4 linked regions of the Homo sapiens genome follow. The protein of the gene in region 4 purifies or fractionates together with the protein of the main gene of each other region. This does not show direct contact. Each region holds a gene or a part of one and is shown on either strand. Other genes may lie near its edges.

The links. The genes of interacting proteins can lie anywhere in the genome.
Region 1: the proteins of SGF29 (region 4) and EDC4 purify together in Homo sapiens (affinity purification with mass spectrometry; 6 studies listed by BioGRID and IntAct, with this or other methods). This does not show direct contact.
Region 2: the proteins of SGF29 (region 4) and ZZZ3 purify together in Homo sapiens (affinity purification with mass spectrometry; 9 studies listed by BioGRID and IntAct, with this or other methods). This does not show direct contact.
Region 3: the proteins of SGF29 (region 4) and SUPT7L purify together in Homo sapiens (affinity purification with mass spectrometry; 6 studies listed by BioGRID and IntAct, with this or other methods). This does not show direct contact.

Annotation. Positions count from the first base shown.
Region 1 is NC_000016.10:67,876,052-67,879,551, reverse strand, and holds part of EDC4 (enhancer of mRNA-decapping protein 4), read right to left. Parts: coding exon 3,451-3,500; intron 3,065-3,450; coding exon 2,953-3,064; intron 2,680-2,952; coding exon 2,580-2,679; intron 2,336-2,579; coding exon 2,146-2,335; intron 2,044-2,145; coding exon 1,896-2,043; intron 1,812-1,895; coding exon 1,707-1,811; intron 1,387-1,706; coding exon 1,277-1,386; intron 1,193-1,276; coding exon 1,109-1,192; intron 1,017-1,108; coding exon 921-1,016; intron 816-920; coding exon 713-815; intron 596-712; coding exon 415-595; intron 316-414; coding exon 243-315; intron 141-242; coding exon 49-140; intron 1-48. UniProt on the Homo sapiens protein: In the process of mRNA degradation, seems to play a role in mRNA decapping. Component of a complex containing DCP2 and DCP1A which functions in decapping of ARE-containing mRNAs. Promotes complex formation between DCP1A and DCP2.
Region 2 is NC_000001.11:77,578,159-77,581,658, reverse strand, and holds part of ZZZ3 (ZZ-type zinc finger-containing protein 3), read left to right. Parts: intron 1-589; coding exon 590-661; intron 662-2,030; coding exon 2,031-2,132; intron 2,133-2,789; coding exon 2,790-2,885; intron 2,886-3,500.
Region 3 is NC_000002.12:27,653,615-27,657,114, forward strand, and holds part of SUPT7L (STAGA complex 65 subunit gamma), read right to left. Parts: intron 1,989-3,500; coding exon 1,751-1,988; intron 134-1,750; coding exon 1-133.
Region 4 is NC_000016.10:28,584,920-28,588,419, forward strand, and holds part of SGF29 (SAGA-associated factor 29), read left to right. Parts: coding exon 1-69; intron 70-728; coding exon 729-801; intron 802-3,500. UniProt on the Homo sapiens protein: Chromatin reader component of some histone acetyltransferase (HAT) SAGA-type complexes like the TFTC-HAT, ATAC or STAGA complexes.

The sequences.
Region 1 (3,500 bases), about 39 Mb from region 4:
ACCCTGGTCAGTCCAACTTACCCTACCTCCCTCTCACGCCCTACTCACTGAAGTCCTCGTGGGCAGTGTGGGTGGGCAGTGGGGCCACCACATCAGGGTTCAGCTGTGGCTGGAAGCGGATCTGCACATCTTGCAGTGCCCTGCAGGAAAAGAAGGGGGAGAATAAAGTGCTCCAAGGGCAAGGGTCAGTAGAGTGGAGACAGACACAGACAGGACACTGGCGGGCCTCCCCACTCACTCACTTAGTATGCACACAAAAGAGCTTGATGAGCACACCGGCCGCAGACTCCATGGCACCGGCTCCATGGGTACCATCTGAAAGGACAGTGTGGATGATGAAGCCCCTGGCCCTCTCTGTGCCTCCACAACCCCCTAGATATATGGACACATAGCTCTGACCCTGAGGCAGCTCACCAGCACCCAGGCTGTCATTTTCCTCTTCGGCAGGCAGCACCTCAGTGTGCCGTAGCCGGCAGCGACTCACAACCTGGATACCAAAGCTCAGCACAGGGTGGGTGAGCAGGAACTCCGAGATGGAGCTGAAGCAGGCGTGGCCCTCCTCCTGGTTTTGCAGCAGCTCCATCACATAGAGGACCTGCACAGGCAGAACGTTCCTAGCTGAGCTCAGAGGCTAAGGGCTGTGATGCGCCACCTGCCCCCCGGCCTTCCTCTATAATCCCAACTCTGCCCAGGGTACCCCATGGCAGCCTACCTTCCGTTGCACATCGCTGAGAATCAGGTATTCTGCTGAGAGGTCCAAGCAAACCTTGAGGCTAGGGGGCACACTCACTGAGCTGAAGATATCTGGGGAGAAGCTAGAGAGCCACAAAGCAGAGTGAATGAGCCTGAGAACTGAAGGAAGCTACATTCCCAACCCTGCCGCCCCTGCCCAGTCCCCCAGCCTTCCAGCCACTGCTTACCGAATAGTCTGCAGGCAGGTCCAGGATACTGTACACCACATCTTTAACTCTCGGTTCTGGTCAGCACCAGTAATAAGGAACCTCCAGAAAGGGACACTGCAAGGCAACAAGGCAGTGAGTGACTGGCTGGGGCCCCTGCTGGGAGCCATGGTCCAGCCCACCACCCACTAGGCTGCCCACTCACTCACTCAGGGTCTTGTTTCTTATGGTTGTCACAGAACAGGAGGCAGGAGAGGGGCCGCCCATCATGAGGTTTCCACTCGTGCAGACACCTGCAGGTAGGCAGATGAGGGGCCTGAGTGAGTGGTCGGGTGGGCTACCTCGGGAGGATCCTGGTCCCTGAGGCCCTGCCTTACCTTGGCTCATCTTGCCCCTCAATGTAGATCTGCCAGAACTTGACATAGCCATCGTGGCTCGCAGTAGCCAGCACAGTCCCATCAGGAGAGAGGGCTCCTTCACTGAGGCACTAGAAAGAACCCAAAAAGCTTTGCTGACTAGAGGTGAGAACAAGCCCCTCCCAAGTGAGGATGGCAATGAGCTGGGCTGACTCACGGTGGGACTGGCATGCTTGTGTGACTGACTAAATGAACAGGGTTCCTAGAGAAGGCCAGACCTGCAGGGTGCTGCTAGATAAGGAGAAAGCTGCACAGGTGAGGGCCAATTTGAGCTCAGAGTCCCCACGGGCAGAATGCTAGTAAAGCTGCCCGGGCAGCTGTGGATATAGGGAACAGAAGATGGATATGAGGAAGTGGGGAGGGCAGGGGAGGCAGGCAGTCACAGGCTTACCGTGCTATGACCTTTTACCACAATGAAGCCCTGCTTGATCTGGCTAACATCCACAGGCCAGGTACTGTGGCTGGAGCGGAGCATGTCCAGGTCCCACACCTCAGCCTGGAAGGCACAGGGAGGTGAGTGTGCAGCCCAACCCCACACTATGGCTTCTCTGGCGCCTCTTCGCCATGTCAGCCCCCTCACCCGGTCTTCATGCAGCAGGGCCACTGTTGGGCTGCTCTCCTCACAGCAGTCTTCGCTCTCCTCAGGGATGAAGGGGCACCAGATGATCCTGCGAAAGTGGTTCAGTGGCGTGCCCTCTGGCTGCCGAATATGGACCAAGATCTCTTCTCTGAGCAGGGTGTTAAGGGCTAGATAGATGAATGAAGAGGCGTGACACCCCAGCTCCGCCCACCCTTCTTCAGTCCCACCACCCACAGGAAGGAATGGATACTGAATTTTGCCATTAACCAGAGCCAAGCGCCACACGAACAGGTTGCCTGCCTCATCCAGGCAGGCCAGCTGTGGAGAGTTGAGGTGCGCGAAAGCCAGATCAGCCACACTGCCTGTGAAGCCCTTGAGCAAGGTCCGCTCCGAAGTGCTGACGCTGATCACCCGCACCATGGCAGAGCCATTGTTGGCAGCTGGAATCAGGAGAGCAGTGGACCATGAATACGTATCCAGGCTCAGGCAGTAGCAGAGAAGCGCTGCCCCACCTGTCTCCCTGCCACCACCAGAGTCTCAAGCTTGGTTTTCCCACCCAGCTCCCCAAGAGGCAGCATGGACAAACCTTCCATTGTACCCCTAAGGCCTGAGTGGCCTGATGTTGGAACTGGCTCTGTGGGACATCCAGCAGAACATTCCTTCCTCCTCACTGTCTTTACTCACCCCGAATGGCATAGGCCAAGAAGGAGTTAGACACAGCAATCAGGTTGCCATAGTAGTACTTCTGTTCCCAGTCATACTTGGCGACAGGCTGAATTTTCACCTGAGAACCCAGGGTGAGAAAAGTCATGGAACTTCCCCAGAGCCTAGGTGGCCCCCAACATCCCTGGGGATGGGAGAGGACACAGATGCAAGTCCAGCTACCCACTGTTACCTCCTGGAGCCAGACTCCCACAGAGGCTTGGCACCCAGCCCTGGCTTCCTGAAACTGGGAAAGTGTCAAGGTGGTCCCCATAGGAACTGGCAGCATGAGGGAGACTGGAAAGGCTGGGTGTGCCCCCGTACATTATATATGCCACAGCATCCCAGTACCTACCTTGTTGCTTCCCCGGGCCTTGCTTGAAATGCTAGAGTCACTGCTAGCCACAATCTCCACCTCCTTGGCCAAAATCCCAATGCAGGTGGAGCTATCATCTCCTGAGAGACAGCTGTGGGGAAGAGTGCAAAAACTTTGCCTCTTGTTCACCCAAAGGCTCAGCGGGCAGGGTTGGGAGGAAGCGAGGACATAGCCAGACTGGGGAAGGTATCTAGTCCAATGTCAGCTTCGCCTGGTCCACTGGCCCCAGACCCACAGCTCTGCTTGCTCATCTCCTTCCTTGGGAATGAGCCTACTTTCATTCTAAACCAGGTATCCAGGCCAAACCCCTGAGCTTGTCCTTGCCTCTCATCCTAGTGCAAGCTCAAGCTCCACCCCAGGTCATCTAGAGAGGAAGCAGCAGAGGCTGCTGGCCCCGCTCACTCCCCATCTCATGCCTTCAGCTAGCAGACACCCCAAATACACCATCACCACTATTGTCGTCTCCTAGGTACTCACATGACCTGCTTCTCTTGCAGGTTAATGGGTGGCATGGTCCGAAGACCAGT
Region 2 (3,500 bases), on a different chromosome or scaffold from region 4:
AAGAACTTTGAAATTAAGAGAAACTTAGGTTGGAGTCCTAACTTACTAGCCGTGAACCTTCAGACATCATTTACGTTGAAGTCTCTAAGCTGCAGTTTCCTTTTGTATAAAATGTAGTTGATATTACCTATCTTGTAGGGTTGTTGGTGAGGGTTAAATAGGTAGTATATGCAATGTGCCTAGTACAGTATCCGACACATAGTATTTACTCTAAAAATAGTAGTTCCTTTGTGTGTAGTGAAATGTGACCAGGATTTGAGTCCTGGCCTTGCCACTCTTAGTTAGATGAACCTCAGTGGACATGTTACTTTTCAATTCTGAGCCCACATTTCCTTTCCCTTTTTTAAAAAATGAAGTTACAGTACTATTATGTATTTCACAGGATTGCTGAGAGTATAAAACCAAACAAAATAAAATAATGTGAAGGCATTTTGTAAACAGTTAAAAAAAAAGCATATACATTAAAAAACAAATTTACTCAAATATTTTGAAATTAATTTAAAAATTCCACAATTTGCGTGTTATTTGGCTATATCAAAGGATAGGTGTTGTTATTTTCTCTCTGACAAAAGCCTTGTCTTATGTGCAGATGATAAGAGGACGCTTGTGTGATGATACCAAACCTGAAACATTTAACCAGTTGTGGACTGTTGAAGAACAGGTAATAAATATTTCAAAATCGTGTAGGCTTAAAAAAACAAGTAAACAGTTAACATCAGAGTCAGTATTATGAGGCCAGGTCCAGTGGCTCACGCCTGTAATCCCAGCACTTTGGGAGGCTGATATGGGTGGATCACTTGAAGTCAGGAGTTCAAGACCAACCTGGCCAACATGGTGAAACCCTACTAAAAATACAAAAATTAGCCGGGTGTGATGGCGTGTGCATATATAATCCCAGCTACTCGGGAGGCTGAGGCAGGAGAATTGCTTGAACCCAGGAGGCAGAGGTTGCATTGAGCCAGGATCATGCCACTGCACTCCAGGCTGGGCAACAGAGTGAGACTCCATCTCAAAAAGAAAAGAGCCTGTATTTTGAGTCAGGTGTATATTGTTGTATGTGATGCCTGTTAGCCATGAGTTTTAAATATTTAGGCTTATTTTTGTATACCTTTTTGCATACGTCAAGAATTTTGGATTTTGAGAATGTGTAAACTTTTGTTTGGGGATAATTTTAAAAGAAGGAACCTGGGTTTTGAGAGGGGAGTAGAAGTGGATAGAATAAAATAGATGTTTTTGTAATGTAGCTTTGGGAGAGAGAAAAACCTGAGGCCAGTAAAGCTGAGCTTCAAAGTGCATTCTTATTTTTGTTGTCGAAGGGAGGTGAGGAAGTCAAGTCAGTTTTGGCATACAGTTTAGAATTGTTTTTTGGCTAATGGCTAGGGTTGTTAGTGGGTGAAGTTTGAGGCACATCTTTGTCTCATATGGCTATTAACCCCACAGCTATACATTTAACAGTTTATAAAAAGCTTTGGGAAATCTATTTATTTCAAGCATCCAGATTTTTCTGCATCTTTAGGACTATGAGAAGATACAGGAGACAAGAAGGAATATTAAAATCAAATATTTGAATAAAGGACCATACAAAAGAAGGAAAAGCCTCTTTTAATAGTCGAAATTTAAGTGAATTTACACGTTTTTGTTAAAACTGTAGGGGAAAGAAAAGTAAGAAAAGATTGACCATCTTTTCTTGGATTTCAGTGGATTTAGTGATTTCAGTGGAAATCACTAAAATGTGTAATCTACCAATTTGTTTACTTATTTTCTGTTTTCTTATGAGATATTTTTACTTATGTGAATAGAAAACTTTTCTAAGCTCTTTCATAAGTTTATTCTCTAATTTCATTGTTCCCTGTGAAGTCTTAAGTTTCTAACTAGAAATTTTTCCTACCATGAGGATTTCTAATTACGTAACCCCCAAAGGTGGGAGAGAGTATTACATTTTGAAATGAAATGTGAATGTATTTATTTAGAAATCCAATATTTAAAATTAAATACATATTTTCTTAAATTTGGTCTTGGGTATGGCTTAGAAAAAGCTGGAACAGCTACTCATCAAATACCCTCCTGAAGAAGTAGAATCTCGACGCTGGCAGAAGATAGCAGATGAATTGGGCAACAGGACAGCAAAACAGGTAATTGAGGAGATGACTGCAGATTGCTGGTATGCTTTTGGTAGTTTTTTAATAAAGGAGAATAATGCAGCTGACATTGGGCGATCTGCCATAACACTTTCAGCTACAGAGTGCTGTAGTATGTGGTGTTTTTTTAAAAAAATTGTATATATTTTCGTTGATTTCAGAAACAACTTGAGATACTTCTGCTTTGGATCATTACGAAATATTAAAAAATGAACATATAATGGACTTAATTTCTCTTGAATGCTTACTAAATATACTAATTGTATACTTTTTGGTTATACTGAGCAAACAGATTTGTTTCATTGCCTTAGTGTTTCCTGGTTGTCTTTCTAAAAATGTATCTTGCAGTTTACTCCTTCATATTCCCATCTATATTAATAGATGTGTTTTTATACTACAAATGTAAGTGTTCACAAGTTGAAATATGTGTTTAGCTTTAGAATCAAATTTAAATTTACTTGAATAATTTTTGTTTGGCCTAGATTTTAAAATATATGTGTATTTGGTGGCAGTTTATTGTTAATTCTAGATTCATGATGAGTATTGAATTCTTAGCATTCATTAGATACTCATGTACGTTTTAATTTTTAAAAACGACTCAGGTATTGTATGTCATCTCATTGTGTTAAGAGACTTGTCATGTTTCCTTAGGTTGCCAGCCGAGTACAGAAGTATTTCATAAAGCTAACTAAAGCTGGCATTCCAGTACCAGGCAGAACACCAAACTTATATATATACTCCAAAAAGGTAAAAGAAAATACATGAAAGTAAACTGTAGATTAAATTTATTAAAGTAAGAATTGCTATGTAAAAATCTACACATTTGACAGAATAGTGTTGTATTTTAAAACTTCTGTTCATTCTAAGCATTTCCTTATATTGTGCAAAAGTGGAGGGTAAGGACTCCATTATTGCTGCTCAGTGAAATTCATGATTCTTCATTATTTTCTTTGGAGTAATGTGAATGAGTGCTACTTGAAAGATTTTAGATTCAAAATATGTTAGAAAGGCCTTTGTGAGGGTAAAGTTTTTAGGATATTTGATTATTTAATAAATCAATCATTTAATAAATTTAATAGATCAATTTCTGTTTTGTAGATAATGCTACATAAATCCAAGAATAGAAAGGTTTATTATGATATTCTAAAGCCAGGCACAGTGGTGTGCACCTGTTGTCCCAGCTACTTGGGAGGCTGAGGCACGAGGAACACTTGAGGCCAGGAGTTTGAGTCCAACTTAGGCAACATAGTGAGGTCCCGTATCTTTAAAAAAATAAAATATTGTATTTAATCCTTTCTACAATTCTTGAAATATAAGTAGTCTTATCATCTTCACTTTACTGACATAATATTAATAGCTAGC
Region 3 (3,500 bases), on a different chromosome or scaffold from region 4:
ATGCCTGACATAGGCTCCTCGAAGACATCACTGCCCAGCACACCATGCCCAGAGACATTGCCTTCTTCACTTTCTTGAGGCTCCATTTTCACATGGGCCAGATTCCAAAGAGGAGAAGCATTTACCTCTGCACCTAGAAACAGAGGAAAGATGGACATACACCAAGTGTATATGTGTAGCCAAGTGTAGAACAAAGAGTAAATATATCACTCAGAACCAACTAATATGCTTTGAGCTCAGTTTTCACTCTGATTCTGTACTTGGCTGGAGAATATGGTTGTTACTCTCTGCTTCAAAAAGTTAACCATCCCAAAAAATTACCAGCTCTGATTATCTTCTTTTCCATTTCTTCTACCTTTCTTTCCTCTACCTCACCCACCCCCATTTCCCCTAAACCAGGGAAGTGAAACTAGGCAGGTGGAAAGATCCCCTGTCTCACAGCCCAAAGACATGCACAACCACAGGACTTGTTCAGTTGTTTAGTTTGCCTGTCCTTCCTTCCTTCTTTTATGGGGCCATCTTGTTTTCCTGCCTTTTGTTTGGGTCTCTGGTCATCTCTTGCATTATGAAAAGTTAATGGTCACTACATAATGCTAACAGCAGTTCTCTACCTGGTCTTCTTTGAAGAGACATGGTCCCGAAGTCCGCAACAATTTCTCTTTGGCCCTCGCATCTCTCTATGTATTCTAGCAATGCTGTTCTCTTATGGTTATTCTTCCATAGTGAAAGGCTCTCTGCCCAACACTTTTAAAAGTATGACCTAATTCCATTTAGACCACATTTGAGGATTTGCTATTTGAGTCATTTGTGCATTGATGACAATTTATACTTGTAAACAACTGAGTGTCCAGACTAATTTGCAACCTAACTGACACGTAACCAGTCAGTTGTCCTGGCTCCTAAGGTAATCACAGAGTCTGGAAAAAGAAGCCAGCTACCTCTAACTGGGAAGCCCTATTTCTTTTTTTTTGAGACGGAGTCTTGCTCTGTTGCCCAGGCTGGAGTGCAGTGGTGCAATCTCGGCTCACTGCAAGCTCCGCCTCCTGGGTTCATGCCATTCTCCTGCCTCAGCCTCCTGAGTAGCTGGGACTACGGGTGCCCACCACCACGCCCAGCATATTTTTTGTATTTTTAGTAGAGACAGGATTTCACTGTGTTAGCCAGGATGTTCTCGATCTCCTGACCTCGTGATTCGCCCGCCTCAGCCTCCCAAAGTGCTGAGATTACAGGCGTGAGCCACTGCGCCCAGCCGGAAGCCCTATTTCAATGTCTTTCATCTTCAGTTTGTTAGAATACTCTAGCAGGGAAGCCAAACTCTGAGAACATCCTTGAGCAATTAACACTCCCCCATCTATCTGGCAGCTGTCTTATTCAATGAAGTACAAGCATCAGGAAGGACCAATACAGAATACTAAAAATAAAATACTAAAGGAGGAAGGGGATATCTTCCCAACCAGCTGGATCAGCTGAATCAGCCTTGGTAATCAACGTGACAACACATTGCATCTACATCTTAACTAGGGATTATTTTAAAGAATGCCTGTAAAGCTGTGCTAATCCTCTCTTCACTAATTAGAAAGAGAAGAATGCTGGGATCTCTAGATAGGTGAAACTGTATTCGTTTTAGGACTTTCCATTCTGCCCACTGCTGCTTTTGTTCTTCTACCTCTTGAGCTTGATTCCAAAAAGCAAAAAGTACTGAAATTGGCAGATCTCCCAGAATCAAAGTGAGTAAGTTTATTTGTCTTACTTGAAGCCTGTGGTGAAGCTTCAACCTCCAGGTTAGATGGGAAGCGTTCGCTCTGAGCCCCAAGCACTCCCATAGGCAGTGACTGGTCTCCAGAAGCAAGGTCAGCCTCCAGCTCCTCACTGACAGGAAAAGTGATGTCGCTCACAGGTTCCTCCTTGATCTTCACAGGTTTAGCGTCCTCTGTGGCCTTCTCAGGATTGACAATCCTTTCATATTCTTCAGAGAGTTGCTTACTAATCTGTTGGCAAGCAAGAGTCAATTTTCCAAGGAAATGTTAAAAGCAAGTTGGATAGTCAGCTTGTGACGTCCCATGGAAAAGCCAACAGAACATGAATAACAGAATTTTAAAACATTCACTGCCAATGGGAGGGATTTGTTTAAGGTGCTGAGTTTGCATTTATGAGTGATAGAGATATGTAAAGAAAATTGGTTTGGCAGAGAATGTGTATGTCATTAATTAAAAGTTACATAAAGGTAAAAAAATGTGTTAGAACTGGGACAAAAGATTACATTTTTTTGGCTATAAAAATTAACAGTAGGCTGGGCACGGTCATTCACACCTGTCATCCCAGTACTTTGGGAGGCCAAGGTGGGAGGACAACTTGAGCCTCGGAGTCTGAGACCAGCTTGGGCAGTATCTAGTGAGACCCCATCTCTACCAAAAAAAAAAAAAAGCTGGGCATGGTGGTTCACATCTGTGGTCTCAGCTACTTGGAAGGCTGAGGTGGAAGGATCGCTTGTAGTGAGCTGTGATTGTGCCACTGCACTCCAGCCCAGGCAACCCTGTCTAAAAAAAGGGAAAAAAAAGTTGACATATGTATCCTAGGTGAATAATCAATGGTGTGGGAAATCTGGATCACTTAGCAAAGACTTTTTTCTTGGGTGTTAAAAATTCCTAATCATATTTTAGACCTGCAGAAACTGAAACAGTGAACAAATGACTTAAGAGCACAAGGGCTGAAGAGATTAGATATTTCTGGTTCCAAGCAAAATCATCACCCCCCACCAACCCATCCTCCAGGCAATATCATTTTACTCTGTTTTTTTCATAGCACTTAACATTATCCAAAATTGTATTTTTTTGTGTATGTGCTTAGAGACAGGGTCTTGCTATGTTGCCCAGGCTGGTCTTAAACTTCTGGCCTCAAACAATCCTCCCACCTCAGCCTCCCAAGCAGCTATATTAGATATATATATTACAATTCCAGTCAAACCATTATATTAGCTGCTTGAGAGGCTGAGGCAGGAGGATTGTCAGTAGGTCTGTGTTCTCTTTTTTTTTTTTTCAGACAGGGTCTTGCTCTGTCACCCAGGTTGGAGTGCAATGGCACAATCATGGCTCACAGCAGCCTTAACTTCCTGGTCTCAAGTGACCTTCCCACCTCACACTCCCAAGTAGCTGAGACCACAGGCATGAGCTACCATGTCCAGCTAATTTTTATTTTTTAATTTTCTGTAGAGATGGGGTCTCACTATATTGTCCAGGCTGGTCTTGAACTCCTGGCCTCAAGCAATCCTCCCACCTCAGCTTCCCAAGTAGCTGGGATTACAGGCATGTGCCATCATGCCCAGCTCCTGAAATTGTTTTGATTGTTATTTATTGACTTGTGTTTGTCTCCCTTCAAAAACAATGTAAACTCAGGTAACTTAGTAACTGCTGAATCCCACAATGCTCGACTCTCAACAGGCACTCAATAAATACTTGTTGAATAAAATCAGACTAACTGCATTCTCTCAGATTCCATATACT
Region 4 (3,500 bases):
GTTCGCGGAGCGAACACAACTTAGTGAACATCCAGAAGACCCATGAGCGGATGCAGACAGAGAACAAGAGTGAGTAGCTGGGCTCAGGAGAGAAAGGGGATGAGATGGGGCTAGGGTGAGTATGGCCAAGACTGTGACCGAGGTGGTCATTGTATTCAAAATAGATTTGCATGTATCTGCATATTCCAAAATGCAGCAGGAGGGACAGCTTTCCGTTAATCTGGGTGACCTGAAGAACTAAAATCCCTCTACTCTGAGGATTCGAAAGGCAGTGAAATGAGGCTGTATCTAGGGAAGCTTGCCCTTAGAGCACACAAGCGCCCCAGTTAGCTGGTGTTTTCTAGAAAGGAGCTTCCTTCCCAGGCGGCCCCTGCATCTGCCCTGAGGCCCTCAGGTGGTGAGATCCTGGGGCTGGGGCTTTCTTACTCTGGGTAACTCTGAGAATTGTGTTTTCCTGGGTCCTGACAAATATTTTCTGTGAGTGTCATGATGGAGAAAAGGTAAGACAGTACTCTCGCAGATGTAGGGATGGCATTTGTACCATATGGAAATGCGGACTCATGGAGCCTGGGGGCATCCGCCTCAGGAGCACTCCTGAGCCAGCAGAGCTCTGACTGCAGCTACGGCCTCTCTGTGCCTCCACGAGTGTGATTCCGGTGCATGGAAGCAGTGCCATGCTACTGTGCCTGCCCTGGCCCTGCCTCCTTATCCCTGTGTTTCCTCTGCAGTTTCTCCCTATTACCGGACAAAGCTGCGTGGCCTCTACACAACCGCCAAGGCCGATGCAGAGGCTGAGTGCAAGTGAGTACCGTGCACCCACTTCATCGCCGCTCCCTCCTTTCCTGGGGGCTGGGCTGCAGGTCCATTTGGACCAAGTCCCCAGCCTGCCTTCCTCCCATGGATAAGCTGATTGCTACTCCCAGCCTCTCGCTTGGGTCCCGCATTCCCTGGCCCACTGCCAGGCCCACTCTTCCAGTTACCTCTGCTGCTAATGCCTTTACAGAAGGTGGCAAGGCGTGAGTCAACACTGCCGTTTACTGGCTCTATGACCTTGGCAGAGTCATTAAAATAGGGATATCAGGGGCTGGGTAGCTCAGATCTGTAATCACAACATTACAGAGGTGATTGGGAGGCCGAGGTTAGAGGATCACTTGAACGCAGGTGTTTGAGACCAGCCTGGGCAACAAAGTGAGACTTTGTCTCTACAAAAAGTTTTTAATTAGCTGAGCGTGGTGGCATGTGTCTGTAAGCTTGGCTGGGAAGTCATACTCAGATGACCTGAAGGTTTTATGGTTCTGAGATGGAGAAGTTTCACTTCCAGAAAACTCCTGCTTTTAAAATAATCTTAAGGCCGGGCAGGCACAGTGGCTCATGCCTGCAATCGCAAGGTGGGTGGATCACCTGAGGTTGGGGGTTTGAGACCAGCCTGGCTAGCATAGCGAAACCCTATATCTACTAAAAATACAAAAATTAGCCAGGTGTGGTGGCGCACGCTACTTGGGAGGCTGAGGCAGGAGGCGGAGGTTGCAGTGAGCTAAGATCGTGCCACTGCACTCCAGCCTGGGCAACAGAGCAAGGCTCTGCCTCAAAAAAAAAAAAAAAACTAAAATAAAAAAATGATCTGGAAACACTGTTTCCTTGAATCTCTGCAGGAGATTCAGGAACTTGAACATTACATTCCTCTACTTTGAGAACACACTGGTTCTGAAGTCTGACTGTGCCCAGAGGCTCTGTTTATTTGGGGTGGAGCTCCAACATTGGTATTAACTATCTGACATTTCCTCACTAGTAGGATTCATGCTTTACACTTTTGGCACAGAAGAGGTGTCTCTGGTGGGTCATATTAGACGGCACAGGATGCTGTCTGTGCCATTGGTTAAAGTGGTATTTTCCACGTTTCTCTTGTATCAGATTACTGCTATTTTCCATTGTGTGATTGATCGATTAAGACAGGGTCTCAGTCTGTCATCCAGGCTGGAGTGGAGTGGCGTAATCATGGCTCACTTCAGCCTCAAACTCCTGGCCTCAAGTGATCCTCCTGCCTCAGCCTCCTGAGTAGCTGGGACAATAGGCACCTGCCACCACTCCACCTAATTTTTGTATTTTTTGTAGAGAGGGGTTTTGCCATGTTGCCCAGGCTGGTCTTGAACTCCTCAGCTCAAGCGATCCACCCACCTTGGCCTCCCAAAGTGCTGGGATTACAGGTGTGAGCCTCTGCACCTGGCCTCCATTGCATAATTAATAAGTGTCTTGGGAGATACTTTTGAGACTGTAACTATCCTGTTCATATCAAACACACTAGTTTTAGCATCCATTTATGATTTGTGCGTGAAACAATTGAGATTTTTTAAACTTCCCCCAGGAGATTCTGATGCCCACCAAGGTTTGAAAGCCACTTCAGTAACATGTCACAGAAGACAGTTTAGGACAGGCTGTATAAAACTGTATCCTCCACACAGGCCTGGCAACAGTGATGAGACTCTCAGAGTTCCCTTTGGCCCCGTGGCTCTTTCTCCTTCTCTGCTTTCTGGGGTCCCGGTGCTCACAGCCTGAGGTGGCACTGGCTGGGCCATCCCTGCATTGTACGCAGCAGGCAAGCTGTTCCTTGTCCCTGCGTTGGTTTGGCTGCCCTTGGCCTACCTCCATCTTCTGGCCCTGGCCTGGTGAGGTCCATGAGTCACATGCCCTGGGGCACCCCCGGACACCTCCCGAGATGCTGCATCACACCCAGTTCCTGTGCATCTCCTTCCTGCCGCACAAAGGTCTTTAGAACTCCGGGTCATTTCAGAAAGGCTTGCCAGAGGAATGGACTGGGGTTTGCCATGGTATCAGAGGAAAATAAAATGACCCAAAGTGGAGTTTGTGCTGCTGACTACTGTGGAAATACGTATTTTTTTTGAAATGGAGTTTCGCTCTGTCACCCAGGCTGGAGTGCAGTGACACAATCTCGGCTCACTGCAAGCTCTGCCCCCAAGGTTCAAGCGATTCTCTTGCCTCAGCCTCCCAAGTAGCTGGGATTATAGACGCCCGCCACCACGCCGGGCTAATTTTTGTATTTTTAGTAGAGAAGGAGTTTCTCTATGTTGGCCAGGCTGGTGTCGATCTCCTGACCTCAAGTGATCCTCCTGCCTCAGCCTCCTAAAGTGCTGAGATTACAGGCGTGAGCCACCACACCCATCCCTGCTGTGGAAATACTCTTTGGGAAGATTCCCTGAGCTTTAGGATGAAGGAGCCTCACTCCAGCCAAGTTCTGTGTTTGCTTCTGCTGGGTTCTTTGGGTTCCTGCCACCCTGGAATCCCCATAAACTAACTTCACAGAGGCTTCCTGGGGCTTCAAGGCCATGCAGGGGTCTGTCTTTGGGTTCAGCCTTTCAGAAAGGATGAGGTCCTTCCACCCAGTTCTGCTCTGGGCCAGCACCTCTCCCCAGAGTCTCCCCTCCTTTTGTGTGACCCTCGGGCAGACCTGAGGCCCCCTCTCCTCATTTCAGGAGGTTCCTGCA